Regions from separate parts of the Homo sapiens genome. Here all the other regions are reported to be linked to region 2. The links are microRNA targets in miRTarBase. Many come from high-throughput screens and were not tested one by one. Region 2 holds a microRNA gene; each other region holds the end of a gene's coding sequence.

Region 1 (7,018 bases), not on the chromosome of region 2:
TTGAGCCACCAAACAGGCTCAGGGTGGCATGATGGCTCGGCAAGGTCTCAGAGCCAGGCAGGTGTGGAGCGAGAGGTGGAAGCCAGGCCTGCTAGCTTCCAGGGGCCCCTGCCACACTGGGAAGAGAGGGGGAAGCTGGCACAGCCTGGAAGGGACACCCACACCCGGGGAAGGAGTTTCGTGGGCATCCCGGCGTCTCCCACGCCTCTCCTAGCTCAGCGTCCCCCGGGGAAGCTCAGGCCCCAGATTTTGTTAGGGAGAAGTAAGCAAAGGGTGTTGGCTGTGCGCCCGCCTGTGGGACAGAACTGCAAAGTCAGCCACAAGCAAATGGGCCTTTTCAGGAGGCAGGAGGCACGGCAGCCACCTCCTCTGAGAAGCCGCCATGTCCTCCTCCCTCCCCGGGGCGTGGGGCTGTCCCCTCAAGCCTGGGTGGCCTTTGACGTGTGACCCTCCTCTCTGCACAGGCTCGGTCTGGGGTTCTTGCAGCTGGCACCAGCCCTCCCGGCCCCGGCCGCCCACCCGCCGCGGGGAAGATGCCGGAACAGAGTAACGATTACCGCGTGGTGGTGTTCGGGGCGGGCGGCGTGGGCAAGAGCTCGCTGGTGCTGCGCTTCGTGAAGGGCACGTTCCGCGACACCTACATCCCCACCATCGAGGACACCTACCGGCAGGTGATCAGCTGCGACAAGAGCGTGTGCACGCTGCAGATCACAGACACCACCGGCAGCCACCAGTTCCCGGCCATGCAGCGCCTGTCCATCTCCAAGGGCCACGCCTTCATCCTGGTGTTCTCCGTCACCAGCAAGCAGTCGCTGGAGGAGCTGGGGCCCATCTACAAGCTCATCGTGCAGATCAAGGGCAGCGTGGAGGACATCCCCGTGATGCTCGTGGGCAACAAGTGCGATGAGACGCAGCGGGAGGTGGACACGCGCGAGGCGCAGGCGGTGGCCCAGGAGTGGAAGTGCGCTTTCATGGAGACCTCGGCCAAGATGAACTACAACGTCAAGGAGCTCTTCCAGGAGCTGCTGACGCTGGAGACGCGCCGGAACATGAGCCTCAACATCGACGGCAAGCGCTCCGGGAAGCAGAAGAGGACAGACCGCGTCAAGGGCAAATGCACCCTCATGTGAGCCCGGAACGCCCGCCTGCCCGCCGCCCACCCCCACTGACCCCCGCTGCCTCCCCCAACACCGACACCCTCCTCGGCCTCCTCCTCTTCTCTCATCCTTCCTCCGACACCTCGGCTGGGGAAACCGAGGCCACCGCCCCCCCCTCCGCTGCCCCTGCCCACCCCGAGGCAGGGCTGGGGCTTTTCTTCCTCCCCTGCTCTCTCTCCACCCTCCTGTTCTGTCTGTACCCTCCAAAACCAAGAGCCGGAGGTGGCCCCCTTGTCCTGCAGATGGGAAAACAGGATGGGGAGCTGGCAAGAGGAGCTGCTTGTTCCCACCAGGACCAGAGGAGGCTGCGTTTCCCCGTTTCCATCTCTTTCCCTGGGGTGTCCCCAGCCAGACCTGCGCGTCCTGTCCCTCACATTTGATCACTGTGACCTTCTGGGGGAGGGGGGAGTTGAAAATGCACATCGGCCTCAGATATTTTTTTCTTTTTTCTCCTATTTGGTGTTAACATACACCCAAGCCCACCCGGCCCGTCGTGACCTCTGATCTGTGCCCACTCCTCCGGTTCCAGACGCACCTCTCTCCTCTGTCTTCACAGTGGGGTGTGGGGCCCGTGGGATGGGCCTCAGGCCACCAGGCAATAACCACAGGGCCTGCAGCAGTGCCCCTGCCAGCCCCGAATCCCACCCCCGGGACCAGCCACATCCACAGCACAACTGCCCCGCTGGAGAGGCACCATGGGCGTGGAGGGGCTTCCCGGACACCGCCCACCCGGGACCCGCCTCTTCCACCAAGACAGAGACGTTAGCAACGCATGGCGGGTGGGGACCTGGGGTGCTCAGGAGGGGGTACCCGGGGCCCCGGCCAGAGATACATCAATTACACCCCCGTGGGGGGACAGCCGATGGGAGCCAGCACCAGCAGGATCCGAGGGCGCCCCGGACAGAGGTCTGCCCCACCCACTTCCTCCCCACCACCTGTGCCCCAGAGAGCAGGGCCTGCCCGGGAAGGTGGCGTCCTGGAGTCGAGTGTACCTGCAGCCATGAGGTTCTGGGTGTTTTTTGAGAGAGTCTGAGTGACACCACACTCGTGTGACCCCACAGGGTTGTGTCCAACATACACGGAAGTGGCTATGGAATGGTGTATTTGTGCAACCTGGGGTGCGCGGATGGGTGACTTGTATCTAAGTGCATCTGCGTGTATACCTGTGTGTGTCTGTCTGGGATGATATGTTTTTGTGGCAGTCTGTGTGTGTAATAGTGGTGTAGGGTATACAGAGAGGTGGGTAGTTGTAGATACCTGTGTGTGGTTGTCAGCAAGACTGGATATGTGTGAGGTGTCTGTGTGAATCTTTGTGCCTGTATGAGCATGACTATATTTTGGGGAGTGGGTGATATGGTTTATCTGAGAGCATTTATCTGTAAATATGTTTGTCCTGATTGAGGGACACGATCTGTGTTCCACTCTATAGCAACATGACTCTAGCAATGTGACTTTCGGTTCCAAATCTGTATCAGTCAGCTACTGCTGTGTAACAAATGACCACAAATGTAGCAACCAGAAACAACACATGCTTATTATCTCATAGATTCTGTGGGTCAAGAGCCTGGGTGCAGGTTGGCTGGGTCCTCTACTTGGGATCTCAGGAGGCTGCAATCAAAGCATTCGCCAGGCAGAGGTCTCATCTGAAGGCCTGATCGGGGAAGGATTTGCTTCTTAGAAGCTCATGTGGTTGTTGCAGCATTCAGTTCCTTGCTGTTGCAAGACTGAAGGCCTCAGTTCCTCGCTGGCTGTTGGCTGGAAGCTGCCCTTTGTTCTGTACCATGTGGGTCTCTCCACAGCGGGGCTCGGAGCATGGCAGCTAAGTTAGTGAGGGAAGGTGAGATGGAGGTTTTGGTCTTATTGGGTGTGAGGAAGCAACGTGTGTGTGTGCGCACGCCCTTTTGTGCAGTGAGAGAGAGAGAGAGATTGCACACATGTGTCTCTGTAGTCATGTGGCCAGGTGGGACTATGTAGGTAACAGATTGCTCGTGTCTGATTTGGTACAAGCATGTTTGTTTTCCTCTGTGTTCGTGTGAGTGTTTACTCAACAAATGTTTATTGGACACACTCAGAGAGAGGGAGTGTGCACACGTGCGTGTGTGTTGCTATCCAGCACGTGGACCGGGCTCCCAGAAGAGCTGGCATTGTGTCTGAGCAGAGCTGGGTCCCCCCAAAACTTGGGCTGGCCCAGGGCCCACCAGCAGCTGATGTTGCCTCCTCTCCTGTCCTGGCAGTAGCTTCTGGGTTCTGAAGGTGCCGGAGAGAGTGAGGCTGGGCAGGGGTCTGCGGCCCTTTCTCAGGGACACACCCTGATAGCACAATCTCCTTGGGGCCCTGCCCACCTCCAGGCCTCTCCCACCTCAGGCCCTGCCCGACCCTGGGGAGAGAGGGCATCTGCAATAGGAGGGGACCCGAGCCTGTCCTGGCTGCTGGCCCATCCTGCCTGGGCATCCCTGGTGCTGGGGACTGTGCCAGGCCATGCTTGCTGTGACTCCGCCCCTGCCCCCTCTCCCCCCGCATGTGGGTGCCCCCACTCCCCCATCGTGGGGTCTGTGTAGCCTTCGCTCTAGACATAGTCTTCCTGCAATAAAAAAGTGGATCCTGCATTCCCCACCAGCATGGCGCCCTGTCTCTGTGGTGGGCGTGGGGTGTCAGCTCACCGCCTGTAAAGGATCAAGAAGGGTGGGGAGGTGCAGGATGGGGTGAAGGGTGAAGGAGGTGATGGGTGTAGGAAGTGAGGGATGGGATGAAGGGTGGAGGAGGTGATGGGTGTAGGAAGTGAGGGATGGGATGAAGGGTGGAGGAGGTGATGGGTGTAGGAAGTGAGGGATGGGATGAAGGGTGGAGGAGGTGGTGGGTGGAGGAAGTGAGGGATGGGGTGAAGGGTTGAGAAGGTGGTGGGTGTAGGAAGTGAGGGATGGGATGAAGGGTGGAGGAGGTGACGGGTGTAGGAAGTGAGGGATGGGGTGAAGGGTGGAGGAGGTGGTGGGTGTAGGAAGTGAGGGATGGGATGAAGGGTGGAGGAAGTGGTGGGTGTAGGAAGTGAGGGATGGTGTGAAGGGTGGAGGAGGTGATGGGTGTAGGAAGTGAGGGATGGGGTGAAGGGTGGAGGAGGTGGTGGGTGGAGGAAGTGAGGGATGGGATGAAGGGTGGAGGAGGTGATGGGTGTAGGAAGTGAGGGATGGGATGAAGGGTGGAGGAGGTGGTGGGTGTAGGAAGTGAGGAATGGGATGAAGGGTGGAGGAGGTGGTGGGTGTAGGAAGTGAGGAATGGGATGAAGGGTGGAGGAGGTGACGGGTGTAGGAAGTGAGGGATGGGATGAAGGGTGGAGGAGGTGGTGGGTGTAGGAAGTGAGGGATGGGATGAAGGGTGGAGGAGGTGACGGGTGTAGGAAGTGAGGGATGGGATGAAGGGTGGAGGAGGTGGTGGGTGTAGGAAGTGAGGGATGGGATGAAGGGTGGAGGAGGTGACGGGTGTAGGAAGTGAGGGATGGGATGAAGGGTGGAGGAGGTGGTGGGTGTAGGAAGTGAGGAATGGGATGAAGGGTGGAGGAGGTGACGGGTGTAGGAAGTGAGGGATGGGATGAAGGGTGGAGGAGGTGGTGCGTGGAGGAAGTGAGGGATGGGATGAAGGGTGGAGGAGGTGATGGGTGTAGACAGTGATGGATGGGATGAAGGGTGGAGGAGGTGATGGGTGTAGGAAGTGAGAGATGGCATTAAGGGTGGAGGAGGTGGTGGGTGTAGGAAGTGAGGGATGGGATGAAGGGTGGAGGAGGTGATCGGTGTAGACAGTGACGGATGGGATGAAGGGTGGAGGAGGTGATGGGTGTAGGAAGTGAGGGATGGGATGAAGGGTGGAGGAGGTGGTGGGTGTAGGAAGTGAGGAATGGGATGAAGGGTGGAGGAGGTGGTGGGTGTAGGAAGTGAGGTATGGGGTGAAGGGTGGAGGAGGTGATGGGTGTAGGAAGTGAGGTATGGGGTGAAGGGTGGAGGAGGCGATGGGTGTAGGAAGTGAGGGATGGGATGAAGGATGGAGGAGGTGATGGGTGGAGGAAGTGAGGGATGGGAGGAAGGGTGGAGGAGGTGGTGGGTGTAGAAAGTGAGGGATGGGGTGAAGAGTGGAGGAGGGGACCTGTGTAGGAAGCGAAGGATGGGATGGTGGTGGGGAGGTGGAGGGAGTGGGTTGAGGACATGCAGCAGGGGAGGCAAGGCAGGACCCGTCTGGGACTCTGCTTGGAGATGTCTTTATGTGGCTTTTTTCTAGGGTGTTGGTTTCCAGATTCACTCTGTGCACATTAGCTGGGGACATCCTCCCAGCTGGACTTTCTGTGAACGTGGACAATTTCCTTGCAGGCCCAGTGGCGTTGGGGCAGAGGAGACTGTATTAGTCCATTCTTGGAATGCTATAAAGAAATACCCAGGCCGGGCACGGTGGCTCATGCCTGTAGTCCCAGCACTTTGGGAGGCCGAGAAGGGCATATTACCTGAGACCAGAAGTTTGAGACCAGCCTGGCTCACATGGCAAAACCCTGTCTCTACTAAAAATACAAAAAATTAGCTGGGCGTGGTGGCGGGAGTCTGTAATCCCAACTACTAGGGAGGCTGAGGCAGGAGGATCACTTGAACCCGGGAGGCGGAGCTTGCAGTGAGCTGAGATCGTGCCACTACACTCCAGCCTGGGTGACGAGAATGAAACTCTGTCCAACCCCCCGCCGCCCCACAAAAAGAAAAGAAATACCTGATACAGGTAAATGATAGAGAAAAGAGGTTTAATTGGCTCATAGTTCCACAGCCTGTGCAGGAAGCATGGCAGCAGCTGCTTCTGGGAGGCCTCAGGAAACTTACGGTCATGGGGGAAGGCAGAGGGGAGCAGGCAGGTCACTCGGCCGGAGCAGGAGCACAGGGGAGGAGGTGCCATACCGGATCTTGTGAGAACTCTATTATGAGACAGGACTGAGGGGTGGATCCATTCATGAGGATCCACCGTCATGATCCAGTCGCCTCCCATCAGGCACTACCTCCAACACGGGACTACAATTCAACATGAGATTTGGGTGGGGACAGAGAGCCAAACCATGTCAGGGGACCTTCCCTGCTTGTCCCATCTGCCAGCCCAGCCCCCACCCCTCACCCCTAACCCAGAGCAGGCTGGGGCAGGGATCTGACCTGAAGAGGTAAGGCGTTGTTCAGGACCAGACTGGAAGGAAGGAAGAGCTGAGACATCATTCATTCACGTATTCATTGGTTCATTCATTCATTCATTCATCCAGTATGTAAGAGGCACCACTCTATGCCTGGTCCTGCCCTGATGCTGGGGACACAGCAGTGACAGACACCAGCCCCAGAGCCCCCTGCCTGCTCAGAGAGCATAACCCACTGGGGACGATGATTCCCTATGAAGAAGTGGATCAAATCATCGCAGACACATGCTCCCTACGCAGAAGATAAACCTGCATCACAAAAGTGACGTGGCTGGGAGTCCCAGGCCTTCTGAGGTCTGACTCAGAAGCTGACGTGTTTGCTGATGTGGGAAGCGGGGGAGAGGCCAGCTCCAAGGGGACCTGGGACGGAGCACTGGACAGGGGGACCAGCAAAGGTGTCAAAGCAGGAACAGGTGAGGCCTGGCTGGGAGGAGTGGAGGGAGGAGAGGGAAGGTGGCCAGTGAAGTTGAAGGTCGCCAGCAGGGGTCAAACAGTGCCTGGTGGGCTGTGGGAAGAGTTTGGACTTTCACGAGAAGGATGCCAGGGGGTTACGGGAACATTTCAGCATTTCCCTCAAGAGACCTCGAGGGCCCCGCTGTACCGTGTACTTACCGCAGCTGGCTGAGGAGGTCGGACAGGCACTAAGAGCCCTATTTTACAA
Region 2 (7,018 bases):
AGGCCAGAAATTTAAGACCAGCCTGGGTAACATGGCAATGCCCCATCTCTACAAAAAATACAAAAAATGGTCCGGGTATGGTGGGGCACGCCCATAGTCCCAGCTACTCAGGAGGCTGAGGTGGGAGGATTGCCTGAGTCCAGGAGGTTGAGGCTGCAGTGAGCCATGATCTGCAGTCAACCTAGGTAACAGAGTTAAGACCCTGTTTCAAAAATAAAAGATCACTAGAATCAACAATCACTCTTTAATTTTATTTTAACTTGATGGTTATCACTATATATATATGTATATATATGTATATATATGTGTGTATATATATATATGTATATATATGTGTATATATGTACATATATGTATATGTATGATTTTATAACTTTTTCCCAAAGAGTAATAATTTGAATTATTATGTTTCTTACACAAGTAGGCTGTTTCTAAGTGTCTGGGTTTTTAACATTTTACAGTTTTTATTATACTTACATTTTTTGGAGACCTAGTCTCACTCTTTCACCCGGGCTGGAGCACAATGGTGTGATCATAGCTCACTGCAGCCTCGAACTCCTCGCCTCAAGTGATCTTCTTGCCTTAGTCTCCTGAGCAGCTGGGATTACACATGGGTGCCACCAGGCCCAGCTTTTTTTTTTTTTTTTTTTTGAAAAGACATTTCCAAAAGTTAATTAGTTGGCATCTTTTCATTCATAGTTGTGATGGTTCACACCTTAATCTGAGTGAACTTTTTCTCTGCCACCTAGGATGGTCCTGGTCTTGTGTACGTCCACTCACTGGCCACTCATTCTGCTTTTCTCAATCTCTTCTTAGGTGTCAGAACTGGGAAGGTGGCATTGGCGGGGTACCAGGGATGGAAGCCCATGGTGGCTATACCTTCTGTGGCCTGGCCGCGCTGGTAATCCTCAAGAGGGAACGTTCCTTGAACTTGAAGAGCTTATTAGTAAGTATCTTTTGAGCCATCCCCCTCTCAGGCCCCAGGTCATGGTGATGTGATTGTACTCAGACATGCAGGCTTCAGGAGAGTTTGGCTATGGGAAGGGCTAAGAGAGTTAGCTCTGTTCCAACACAGAGGAAGGAGTGAGCAGCTGCTCTGTCTTGGCTCCCCCTTCTGCCTTTCTGTCTTCCTGCTTAGAGCTTTTTACATAGTGTGTAGACTACATAGACTGTGTGCTGCAGACATCTGGTGTGAGCAGAGTACCTTCCTTATACTTCAGTTTCGTAGAATTAGAGGTTATCGTGTGTTATAGAAAGAACCTCCTAAGAGGAAAAGTTACAAGAAGAGCTTTGCAGCATTTCGAAACCAAACTTTTATTACCTGCTGCACTGTGTAAACATTTAGTACCTACATTTAAATGAGTTGTTTAGGCAGAGCTGGCTAATTGCATTGAGAAGGCAGCCCAACATTTATGTCTGGACCCCACGCTCCTGGCCAGTATTCAGAAGAAACTCAGAAAGCAGTCAGCTTCAGGGAGTCACTAGATTGTAGTTAAATGATCAGTGGGTGCACAAACACACACACCTCCACGGCCACCAGGGAGAAGGCATTCCCCGTCATGTCATTTGGGGAGCATGTACCCCCTGACCATGACGTCAAAGCAAACCAGCTGCAACTGACATGCACCTCCTCTCCCTGAGTTCAGATGCCAGCCTCCCGTTATGCGGCCCATCGTGAGCTTCCTGGAGAGTTTCTGTTGTACCCTGTAGACATGTAACCAGCAGTGTCTTGCCTCCACCTTCAGAAAGCCTCCCCCGGTGTAGTCTTTTTAAAGATTCATGAAGGCTTGAAGGCTCATGCTGAAACAGCCAACTTTGTATGCTGAACTTAAGAGTTTCTCAGATGTTTTAAAATCTGAACACCAATAAGGCATGAAACAAAAAAGTCCCATCTCCCAGGCAGAGATAAGGAATGTGATTAGGGAGTGCCTCAGTTATAAAGACAGTGTTCTAGATTTGAACCCTGTCCCTACTACATTTGAGACATGAGTCCTTGGGCAAATTGTCTAATCTCTTTTAGCTTGATATTTTTTTCTTTTATAAGGTAGGGATAACAATCCTTATTTTTTTAAGGTTAAAGGAGAGAACATTTATAAACAGCCTGGCACATAGTAGGTACTTAATAAATGTTAGTGTCCCTCTAACCCACAGTAATAATCTTTTTGGCACAAGGGACCAGTTTTGTGGGAGATAATTTTTCCGTGGACCTGGGGTTGGGGGTGGGACGGGGGGTGATGGCTTCAGGATGATTCAAGTACATTACATTTATTGTGTACTTTATTTCTATTATTACACTGTAATATATAATGAAATAATTATACAACTCACCATAATGTAGAATCAGTGAGAGCCCTGAGCTTGTTTTCTTTCAACTAGACAGTCCCATTTGGGGGTGATGGGAGACAGTGACAGATCATCAGGCATTAGACTCTCATGTAGAGCGTGCAACCTAGAAGCCTGGCATACACGGTTCACAGTAGGGTTTGCGCTCCTATGAGAATCTAATGCTGCTGCTGATCTGTCAGGAAGTGGAGCTCAGGCAGTAATGGGAGCAGTGAGGAGCAGCTGTAAATACAGATTAAGCTTCACTGGCTCACCCACCACTCATGTCCTGCTGTGCAGCCTGGCATGGTCTGGGGGTTAGGGACCCCTGCTCTAATCCAGACTACTCCCTTCCATTTGCTTTGGGAGAAGTAGGACCCATATCTGAAGTATGAATTCCTATAGCCCAAGGAAACAGAACAAATCCATGGGCTTAGGCACTGGAAAAAGTAAATTAGTCTGCTTAAAAACACTTAAGCCCTGCGGTAAGTAGAAATGAGGAACCGACTCCCACTGCAGCGCCTGCTTTCTCTCTGCCTGAGTAATGCTTAGCCCACTTCCATTACATGCTGGAAGCCCTGGTTCATTTAAGATCAACCGAGGATATATTAGTACCTGAACCTGCAGTACAGTGTTTTCTGTCTCTTTTAAGCATTTGTGACTGTGACTCTCTATGGGCAGGTGTTGCCTTGAAGAGGGAATAATCTAAACAACAGCTTTTAGGGGAGGGCTGGCCCCCACTTCCATCAAGGGTCCCAGTGGCTCCTTTCAGGACCTTTACCTAGTAAGACTCTAGAAACAGGAAGTACCCTCCCCTGTACCCTTTCAGTTGAGTGAGGCAGCTCTGTAAGTCCGTGGCTGGAACGGCCTAGGTGGTCTAGGGAGGGAAATGGAAATGTCATATCTGCTCAGCCAGTTGGTTCTGCTCATTCTGAGGGACCAAACCCATGACTATCTTGATCTTTGTAGTAGAGTGTGTTTAGAAAACTTGTAGATAAGCAAGGAATGGTGGTATCGTGTGTGACCGCTGAGTGACATCAAGACCAAGACCTATTTTACAGCTTCAAAGTAAAAGATTTTCTTATATCAGCCACAGACTGGGCAGAGTTGTCATTTGGTAATTAGAATGAATGGCTTCTGCTTTCAGGCCTGCTAGTGACTTGCTAAGAGACCTTGGGTAAATTTCCCCAGGTGCCAAGTAAAAGTCAGGAGCAGTTTGAGATCATCTGATGAAATGTAGTACCAGGCCGGGCACGGTGGCTCACGCCTGTAATCCCAGCACTTTGGGAGGCCGAGGCGGGTGGATCATGAGGTCAGGAGATCGAGACCATCCTGGCTAACAAGGTGAAACCCCGTCTCTACTAAAAATACAAAAAATTAGCCGGGCGCGGTGGCGGGCGCCTGTGGTCCCAGCTACTCGGGAGGCTGAGGCAGGAGAATGGCGTGAACCCGGGAAGCGGAGCTTGCAGTGAGCCGAGATTGCGCCACTGCAGTCCGCAGTCCGGCCTGGGCGACAGAGCGAGACTCCGTCTCAAAAAAAAAAAAAAAAAAAAAAAAAAAAAAAAGAAATGTAGTACCAAATTCCATTTATCTGCTTTTAATAAACTCCCCGGAGCAGGGAAGTAATGAGAAATGAGCTACTGGTAGTCTTGCCTTCAATTTCCAACTTAAGCCATGTTTATTAAGAGACTTTGAAGGTCTCCTTACAAACCAGCTTGGCCTCTTTATCTTCTCAGCACTGGCACTGCTTTGGAACCCAGGAAAAGGTAGTTGTCTGCCAGGCATTGAGCAGAGATCAGTGCTGGATGCCTCTACAGCGTTGGCTTAAATGCTTCACTCTGTGTCTATGGCAGTGTGGGGAGGGAAGGAAAGAAAACCAGAGCACCAAAACTAGAGTGCCAAGAAGCCACAAGATGGGAAACCCTCCATCCCACAGATTGACTCCTGGAGATTCTGTCGGGCTGGATTTTGTCTCTTTTAGCCTACAACTGCCTTTCCCATCTGTGTCTCCTCAGCAATGGGTGACAAGCCGGCAGATGCGATTTGAAGGAGGATTTCAGGGCCGCTGCAACAAGCTGGTGGATGGCTGCTACTCCTTCTGGCAGGCGGGGCTCCTGCCCCTGCTCCACCGCGCACTGCACGCCCAAGGTGAGCCTGGGGAGCTGTTCACTTGGGGCTGGATGATTTCCCTCCACTACTCACAAAGTCTGGAAGCCCAGCGTGCTTTTTTAGAGGGGTTGAAATGAGCTCTGTCTATCCTGGATTTTGAGTGCCCAGTGTGGAACCTCATGCCGTGGGGCATGCGAATGCAGAGTAAGATTTAGTTTCATTGGTTTAGTGTCATTCTTTGCTTCTTCAAATTGGCTGCGACAGAATGAGCTTCCTTGAAATTGCTACGGGGAGCGGGGAGGAAGTGGGCGCTGCTTCTGCGTTATCTGGAAGGAGCAGCCCACTCCTGTCCTGGGCTCTGTGGTGATTGCCACCTCCTCTGGGTGCAGGGCAGAGCTGAAAACCCTCAGTGTTGCAACAGTCACTGTTGCAACAGCAACAGGAAAGGCAACTGCGTAAAGGGGTAGAGAACCAGAACCCATGTGTAGGGGTGGGTTGTAGGGGTGGGTTGCCCCTACACCATGGAGAAGAGACTCGCCGTGTCTGACTGGCTGCAGAGTTGTCACTATTAGAAATGTTTTATTTTACATTCATTGAATAAGCCTAAATGGGAGTTTGTTCCACCTGCACCATTGGAGTAGAGAAATCCACGTTCGTTTCTGTGGGGTCTCAAATGGGAACGCAAAACCGAAGTAGTTAGTGAGCAAAAAGTCTGGGAACATTCTCTCTCTATCTCTTGAAACCTCAGTCTGCCTGCTAACTCCTGCACCATCTTTCTGGTGTACTTGATGTGAGAGCAGGTGTCTCTGAGTAGACCTGTGGGAGAGAGGAAGTCATGGGGCCCTGCTGGTTGCTGATCTGTTTTTGGAATGAGATCCCTGGGTCCAAAGAGAAGCTGTTCTTCGGACTTAGTTGGATAATGTAACTGCTCAAATGTAAAAGATGAGATTCTTTTCTGCCCCTCCCCATACTTTTTTTTCCTGTTTCTGAGCCCCCCACCCCCCGTCTTCCCCCCTCCCCGCCGCCCCCGAGATGGAGTCGTGCTCTGTCTCCCAGGCTGGAGTGCAGTGGCACGATCTTGGCTCACTGCAGCCTCCACCTCCCAGGTTCAAGCAATTCTCCTGCCTCAGCCTCCTGAGTAGCTGGGACTACAGGCGCGTGCCACCACACCTGGCTAATTTTTGTATTTTTAGTAGAGACAGGGTTTCACCATGTTGGACAGGCTGTTCTTGAACTCCTTACCTCAGGTGATCCGCCCACTTCGGCCTCCCAAAGTGCTGGGATTATAGGCGTGAGCCACCGCACCCGGCCCTGAGCCTCATTATTTAGTTTCTTAATTTCCTTTGAGTTGTTGAGTTGTGACCATTTCTGACACTGAATTAAAGTAAGCAGAGCCTCTGTCCCATTTTCCCGGCCTGGGCCCACTGGGCTTTAGGTGTCAGTATTAAGGCATATAAGGCACTTACCCTTGGAACACAGCAAGTGCACTGTCAGCAAGTGCACTGACTTTGGAGCCTGCACAGTCTCTGCCTTGACCACCAGTAGGGAAGTCAGGAATTCCCCAAGTCAAACATTTTTTATTTTAGTATTATTTTTTTTTGAGACGGAGTTTCACTCTTGTTGCCCAGGCCGGAGTGCAATGGATCACTGCAACCTCTGCCCCCTGGGTTCAAGTAATTCTCCTGCCTTAGCCTCCTAAATAGCTGGGATTATAGGCATGCACCACCACGCCCAGCCAATTTTGTATTTTTAGTAGAGACAGGGTTTCTCCATGTTGGTCAGGCTGGTCTCGAACTCCTGACCTCAGGTGATCTGTCCGCCTTGGCCTCCCAAAGTGCTGGGATTACAGGCGTGAGCCACCGTGCCTGGCCCAACATTTCTAAGATAGAAAAAAACTTGGGGTCATGGTGATCTCTTTATTTGGAACTGGTGAGGTCAAGCCCCTGGTAAAATGGTCAGTCTTTTACAAACCTGTCCCTGGCATGGATAAGACTCAGTAATTCTGCAATCCCAGGGAAATGTGGAATGAGCTATAACAGGAGCACCACCTGTCAAAGTCTTCCAGGGGGGCTGCTGGTTAATTGTTTCTTGTAGCACATGTTCTAGGGGGCTTAGTGGCATTCAAAGCTTTGTCTATGGAAAAGGGTGCCTATGAATCTTGGTGCTTCCAGCTTTTTTCATTGGCTGGGAGAAGGCCTGTGTTGTCTTCTCAGACACAGGGCATCTCTTGAACTTGGAACAGACAGGAGTCTGTAAAGAAGGGAAGTGTGTTGAAAGGAGGGCAAAATACTGACTTTGGGAGTCAAAAGGGGATGCAGTGTAGAAAGATAGTCACAATATATTGTGATCATATCAAAGCAATATGTGTGGAATCCCATTTTTAGTGAAGAGTTGACTACAAAAAATTCATAGAAAGTATCTAGGATGTGAAGTTACAGGTGATGTTTGCTTCTGTTTGTATTTTCTAATCTTTCTATAGTTAATAGGTATTTCTTGCATAAAAAAAGACAACAAAAGTTATTTTACAGAAACAGGGAAATTCTACAAACAAAACAAGCAAAAAGGTGCGAAAAATATTTATAACAAG
Region 3 (7,018 bases), not on the chromosome of region 2:
GCGACTGATAGGTAGGCCTAGTAGGGGGTTGGTAGGTAGGTGAATTCCCCCTTGGAATCATACCTCTCAAACGGCCCTTCCCCTCCCCAGCCAGGATTGGAGGTGGGGGGAGGGAGGAGGAAAAGAGAACCAGGGAAGCACCCCTCTCCAGTCCTGAGGGTCCCCACCCACTCGCTCAGCGCCCTCCCTCTCTCCCTCCCTGCCCAGGAGAGAGCTGCGAGGACAAGAGCCCGCCAGGCCCAGCATCCAAGCGGGTACGCACGGCATACACGAGCGCGCAGCTGGTGGAATTGGAAAAGGAATTCCACTTCAACCGCTACTTGTGCCGGCCGCGCCGCGTGGAGATGGCCAACCTGCTGAATCTCACGGAACGCCAGATCAAGATCTGGTTCCAGAACCGGCGCATGAAGTACAAGAAGGACCAGAAGGCCAAGGGCATCCTGCACTCGCCGGCTAGCCAGTCCCCTGAGCGCAGCCCACCGCTCGGCGGCGCCGCTGGCCACGTGGCCTACTCCGGCCAGCTGCCGCCAGTGCCCGGCCTGGCCTACGACGCGCCCTCGCCGCCTGCTTTCGCCAAATCACAGCCCAATATGTACGGCCTGGCCGCCTACACGGCGCCACTCAGCAGCTGCCTGCCACAACAGAAGCGCTACGCAGCGCCGGAGTTCGAGCCCCATCCCATGGCGAGCAACGGCGGCGGCTTCGCCAGCGCCAACTTGCAGGGCAGCCCGGTGTACGTGGGCGGCAACTTCGTCGAGTCCATGGCGCCCGCGTCCGGGCCTGTCTTCAACCTGGGCCACCTCTCGCACCCGTCGTCGGCCAGCGTGGACTACAGTTGCGCCGCGCAGATTCCAGGCAACCACCACCATGGACCTTGCGACCCTCATCCCACCTACACAGATCTCTCGGCCCACCACTCGTCTCAGGGACGACTGCCGGAGGCTCCCAAACTGACGCATCTGTAGCGGCCGCCGCCAGCCCGAACTCGCGGCAAAATTACCTCTCTTGCTGTAGTGGTGGGGTAGAGGGTGGGGCCCGCGGGGCAGTTCGGGAACCCCCTTCCCCGCTCTTGCCCTGCCGCCGCCTCCCGGGTCTCAGGCCTCCAGCGGCGGAGGCGCAGGCGACCGGGCCTCCCCTCCATGGGCGTCCTTTGGGTGACTCGCCATAAATCAGCCGCAAGGATCCTTCCCTGTAAATTTGACAGTGCCACATACTGCGGACCAAGGGACTCCAATCTGGTAATGGTGTCCCAAAGGTAAGTCTGAGACCCATCAGCGGCGCGCCCTGCAGAGGGACCAGAGCTTGGAGAGTCTTGGGCCTGGCCCGCGTCTAGCTTAGTTTCAGAGACCTTAATTTATATTCTCCTTCCTGTGCCGTAAGGATTGCATCGGACTAAACTATCTGTATTTATTATTTGAAGCGAGTCATTTCGTTCCCTGATTATTTATCCTTGTCTGAATGTATTTATGTGTATATTTGTAGATTTATCCAGCCGAGCTTAGGAATTCGCTTCCAGGCCGTGGGGGCCACATTTCACCTCCTTAGTCCCCCTGGTCTGAACTAGTTGAGAGAGTAGTTTTGAACAGTCGTAACCGTGGCTGGTGTTTGTAGTTGACATAAAGGATTAAGACCGCAAATTGTCCTTCATGGGTAGAGTCAGGAAGCCCGGTGGCGTGGCACAACACACTTTGGTCATTTCTCAAAAACCACAGTCCTCACCACAGTTTATTGATTTCAAATTGTCTGGTACTATTGGAACAAATATTTAGAATAAAAAAATTTCCCAGTCGGAACTGTATCTGTGTTAATCATGCACACTTGCAAGCAGATCACTATGCCTTTATCTCGCACAATCCCCATGGAAGGCCCCGAAACAGACTGACACTTTGAAAAAAATATTTTATTTATTTGGAGTCTAGTGCATAAATTGGTTCTCGGGATACTTGATTACTTTCCAGCTATTGAAATTAGGGGAGGGGGAAATGAGGATGCAAACCTAAGAAGGTTCTGGGCGGGATGATTTGGGCAGGGCTTTTTGAAAGCAGCGCCTGCTTTGCTGTTTTTACTGCCTTCTTTCTAGACACAATCGACTTTTACACTGGGGAGACCAGAGCTCACTTTTCTGCATTAAGTAACAAAAAATAAACTTTGAAAGAAAACTGACAATCAAAGAAAAAACACAAGAGAAGTTGTAAGAAGAATTGAGCTATGAAAAAGCTAAGGTGTAGAAAAAGAAACCATCATTTGGAGACGCGTACCTAAGCTTTTTCTCTAGGAAATGCTGTCATGAATTCTTCCTTTGTAGTGATCATTAGTTCATTTCTAAAGAAAACAAACATTCCCCAAGATGTAAAGTAATAATATTTCATTAATGAAACATAACAAGTATAAACACCTTGTTTACTCCTGTTTCTTATACAAAATGGGCAAAAATGTCTTCAAGGATTTATAACCATTTTGTAAATATTAATGTGGCTTCTGCTAGGGGTGGACAACTTCCCGGCTTCTATGGGAGGGGCCACTTAGAAAACGCCTTCAGATAAGGTTCAATTCTTTTGTATTTCAGCAAAGTCAGCCCACGCATCTCTATTTGGTTTGACAAATAATGCAACTCCTACTACATCCCCGATGACACGAAGTGAAATTCCTATTGTGTGGAAATAATTTAACTTCTAATCTTCTGGTGGAACAACAATCGTTTCTATTTGGATGTTTGTATTTCACTAAGTAATGATGGCTCAAAATAATATTTAGTTTCCTTGTTCCTTTGTGCTGTTTTTAAAATGGCATGTTAGATTTGGGGGTGGGAGGGGATATCCTTTTGCTAAATTTCACTTTATCTGAGCAGGTTTAAAATATATATGTTGTAGAAGTGTATCAACAGAATAAATGACTTCAATCGAAGGCACATTTTACCCACTTTCAAGGCTTAACATTGTTTTCTATGAAATTTGCATCCATAGGCAGAATTTCTAATTGTCTTGTAAGAAATTATTTTTTAAGCTATTAGAGAAATCAAAGGAGAGCTCACTGCCTTGCAGGGATTACAACCACCTTTCTTAACTGGCTAAATATTAACTAGCTGAATTGTCAGGCTGCTTAGATTCAGCCCGATTTTCCCTCATCTCCTCTTCCTACCATAAATAATAATAAAAATACGTAATGTGTCATGGCTCCAGGCGTTTTCCAGCACAGTGTGTTACCGCAGGAGTATCTGCTGAGTCTGCGGGTGTCTGCAAAGCCCCAAGTGTCATTTGCGGCTTAGGGTTTCATGGATTAGACTTTAAACGGTGTCTAGCCCGGCTGACATTAGCTTCCTCTCACACTCAGGCTCCAAGGAAGTGTGGGATCAGGGGCTCCCTCTCCAGGCAGCCACAGCTTTCCCCGACGCCCTCCTCTCGAGTGGGGTGAGGGCTTGGACCAAATCTGCCACCTTCTGTCATCTCTGGAGGTTCCCGAGACTTCTAATAGCTCGGATCTGTTCCTGCCATTGGCGTGAGACTCATCTGAGGGGCGTGGGTGGGGGTGGGCGGCGAGCCGGGGGAGGGCGCGTTTCCGCGCGGCTGCCAGCCCAGGAGAAAGTTGGGGCCCGCGGCACAGCCATTTAAAACTTCATAAATTATAAACAAGCCGCCTTGGCCTTCGCAATAAATTCCGCTCCTTTTGAGCCTGCAATTAGTGTTAGAAAGCAACCGAGTCTAAACACAACCAAACGCCCTCTGAAGGGCCCAACTGCCTGAGGTTGCAAACCTTTATTTCCCAGCGCCACCCCCTCTCCGACTGAGGTTTGCACACACAGTCGCCTCCTCCCCCGCCACCGCCGGCGGTACACACTCGGCTGGGTTCCCGCTCTGCAAGGGAAGGTCACAATAGCTGCTCTATCGGCTGCGGAGGCGCCTGCCGCCTCCCTCCCGAGTCTCAGAAGCAGAAAAACAAGAGAATGGGGGAGGGGAGGCCCCAGCAACAGCGCCCTTTGCGGGAGGCAACCTCCACCCTAGCCAGGGTCTCTCTCCTGGGACGAGTGCTCGCAGAGGGTTGCGGGGAGGGCAAAGGGAGCGCACCAAGACCACCAGGCTGCTCCAGGCCTTGCCGCAGGGCGCTGGGTTGAGGGTGCCCGGAGCAGCCGCGCCATTGTGTGTCAGGTTTTCCCACGGGATCCGTGATGGGGGAGGCCATATAAAGGGAGCTCGGATCCGGGCCTCTCCGGCATTGGTCTCTGGGAGGGTCTACCTCGTTTGCCCAAGGGGAAGAAATGGCTCTGTCTCAGGCCTTAGCCAGCTCTGCTTTTTTCCTAGAGACTACTTTGGGGAAGGTGGGGATCAGGGAGATTGTGGGTCCTCCTGGGGTCTGAAGAAAGGGGTCAGGGCAGGATCTCAGGCCCATGGCTGAGGGGTGGCAGTCGTCTGGACATTCTAGGTGGTTCTGTCCAGGCAATCAAATATGAATTAAGGCAGGATAGCTGTGAGGCAGCCAGAATGGCCAGCTGCAAAACGGGAGGTGGGGGTGGGGAAGGAGATGCAGACAGTGAGAGCTTTCCCTGCAACCAAGAAAAACTCAGGATCCAGCCAGGAGTTGAAGTGCTGAGACCCAACTGAACTAGCCAGGAAGAATGGGGAAGTGGCAGAAGAAAGGCCTGGAGAGTAGTCCTGGTCACTGGTAAGCAGGTCAGAAAGGGCGATTAAGTACATATTCTGTCTCCTGGCTTTCAGACCTCCACCTTATCCAGGGACCTGACAGAGAAAAATCTGCCTCTGATGGAATCATTAAGTTAACCATCCATTTGTACCATTTCTTTGTACAGGCTTTCAAACGAGAGAGAGGAGAGAATACAGGAGGAGAATGTTTCCCCTTGGTGCAGCCCCAAGCTCCCTATCAGAGACACATCAGCCAAATTAGTTTCCGAGGCTCACAGGCTGCTAACATTGCTGAACAAGATTTTTCGAATTTCTATGTGTTAGGAGTATTAAAAGATAGTGATTACCTATACTAGCAGCCTTTGTCCCTTTTCTCTTCCCTAGTCTGTACCAGCCCACTGGCCCTTGAGTGAAGTGCATCTTCTCAGCCTGCGGACTTGGGAGCTCAGGCTCTCCATCTGTTGAGGTTTTTCATTAGGGAGACTACAGAGGATGTGTGTGGGTGTGTGTTTGAATAACAAAGAAGTAACCCTTCATTCTAATAAAAGTGTTCCTCTGCTTGACCTGGAGGAGCCAGAAGCTTGTTTATACCTTCAGTATTCAAGGGACAGTCACAGGCCTGTTTTGACCTTTTCCTGAGAATTAGCTGAAACTTCCCTCTGAAGTCAAGTAGTGAATCTGTTATAGGTCTAAGGAAGGTCCTCTTCATCTGGGAGTTCTTGGCATTACTTTGGTCCTTCTTTCAGAAACTGAAAGAAAAGAATAGGAAGAACAGAAGTTTGTGAGTAGGCAGGAAGGGACATGGATGACCCCAGTCTTCACAGGACTATGGCCTGATCACTTCGAGGCACTGCAACTTCCCAGAGTATATATGTAGGGCTTGGGTTGAGTGGCCCTGTTCCGACACTTTGGGCACAGGGAGCTGAGACTGGGCTGTCACTAGCCAAGCCCTTACCATCTTTGAGGGCTGGTTCTTAGATCTCTCTTGCAGAAGGCCTGGATAGAAAGGAGAAAGATTGGGTATATTGGGAGGCTGAGACAGGAGAATCGTTTGTACCTGGGAGGCAAGGTTGCAGTGAGCTGAGATCACACCATTGCACTCCAGCCTGGGCATCAAGAGTGAAACTCTATCTCAAAAAAAAAAAAAAAAAAAAAAAAAGATTGGGTACATAAGTCCTCTGCACTTTCTGCACTGGTGATGCTGGAGAGGAAGGACGGTGAATGATAAGAATCATCACAGAGGATGAAATCTTAGTTCTCATTGTTCCCTTCTTTTCTACTCCAGCTACAAATGCCCTTATCTTTGGAGTCCAAGGTTGGGAACAAATGGATTTAAGTACCTGGCCTAAAGCCTATTCCTAAAAACTTCCCTCAGGTTTCACACCTACCTTGGCAAGTTGGAAAGTGCAAAGACAATATAAGGGCCCATTTTCAGGCCAGGTCCAGCATGAAACAGAGTGAACAAAATTAGTTCCACACATTAGGGAAGAGCCAAGTCAGACGAATATCCAATCATTTGCAGTAGTAGAGGCAGGTGAAGGGTCCCCAGATCTGTAAGGCAGGAGTTACTGCATGAGTCTTTCTGTCCTAGATCTTGGGCAAAATGTCCTGATTGGTTCCTATAGCTAGTCTGGATTATTTTAAGGAAAGAATACTACCTGGAGAAATCATAAAAGCTGGGTTTTAACATTAGTAAGGGCCAGAAGAATTTAAATCCTAATTTAAACCAAAATTCATGGAGAGCTCTGGTACAGGCAGTGTTTTTACCTGGGAAGCAGGGCTCAAAACCTGGCCAGGAGGTCTTGTTGGGCCAGGAATGTCCGTGGTTGGTGAGGAGGCTGGGAGAAGGCCTTTTTGATGGCTCCATTGTTCACAGCGCTGCCCTACAAATACCATATCCGTCCCCACCTCCTCTGCAAGGGTCGAGCGGAAGAGTAGGTCTGGTGAGCTGAGCTCTAGGGAGCTGGTACCATCTTCCCTCAATCCCCCTCGGTTACCCCTTGGGGCAGCAACGACGCCATCCCAGCCCCTTCCAGAGAACACACAAAGGAAGCCCCACCCGTCCTTAGACCTGAGGACACGCTCGGGAGCGGGCTGACGTGGACCCCGTTTCAGGGCGCCCCGGGCCCCTGCGGGGAACAATAGCCGCCGCCTCCTGGGCGGTCTGGCGGGCGCGCGGCACAAACGTCCGCGCCGCCACGTGATGCGCGCGCTCGTTCCGCGCTCTCCGCGCCTCAGCGAGCGGCCAGGCTGCGGGCGGGGTGGGCTGGCGCTCCTGATCCACCTGGAACACTTTTGCAAAGACAGACGGTGAGTTAATCACCCTACCGGCTGGCGGCCGCGTCCCCTCTCGCCCGCGAGGAGGACTGGAGAAGGGGCTGGGG

What was found. The annotated mature microRNA hsa-miR-4706 reads AGCGGGGAGGAAGUGGGCGCUGCUU and lies in region 2 at 4,724-4,748, shown strand. An mRNA with a match to its seed (bases 2 to 7 or 8) in the 3' UTR can be bound and repressed. Matches are read on the target gene's strand: a 7mer-m8 pairs with bases 2 to 8, a 7mer-A1 pairs with bases 2 to 7 and ends in A, and an 8mer does both.
Region 1: the mRNA of DIRAS1 is a reported target of hsa-miR-4706. Seed matches in the 3' UTR shown: 7mer-A1 at 3,670-3,676.
Region 3: the mRNA of HOXD3 is a reported target of hsa-miR-4706. Seed matches in the 3' UTR shown: 7mer-m8 at 1,061-1,067.

The regions. Positions count from the first base shown.
Region 1 is chr19:2,711,322-2,718,339 of GRCh38, reverse strand. DIRAS1 (DIRAS family GTPase 1) reads left to right here. Exons shown (of 2, transcript NM_145173.4): 2 at 465-3,773. The coding sequence starts at 534. The coding sequence ends at 1,130. Among named protein-coding and RNA genes, the nearest start is that of DIRAS1, 6.5 kb to the left of the region's middle.
Region 2 is chr14:65,039,974-65,046,991 of GRCh38, forward strand. It overlaps MIR4706 (microRNA 4706), which reads left to right and starts at 4,715; the gene lies at 4,715-4,796. CHURC1-FNTB (CHURC1-FNTB readthrough) reads left to right here. Exons shown (of 14, transcript NM_001202559.1): 10 at 817-946; 11 at 4,338-4,470. It overlaps FNTB (farnesyltransferase, CAAX box, subunit beta), which reads left to right. Exons shown (of 12, transcript NM_002028.4): 8 at 817-946; 9 at 4,338-4,470. It also overlaps a transcript of MAX not described here.
Region 3 is chr2:176,171,310-176,178,327 of GRCh38, forward strand. HOXD3 (homeobox D3) reads left to right here. Exons shown (of 4, transcript NM_006898.5): 4 at 208-1,789. The coding sequence ends at 965. HAGLR (HOXD antisense growth-associated long non-coding RNA) reads right to left here. Exons shown (of 3, transcript NR_033979.2): 2 at 6,023-6,185; 3 at 1,880-5,383. HAGLROS (HAGLR opposite strand lncRNA) reads left to right here and starts at 6,857. Exons shown (of 2, transcript NR_110457.1): 1 at 6,857-6,944. RefSeq lists enhancers at 312-922, 6,254-7,018.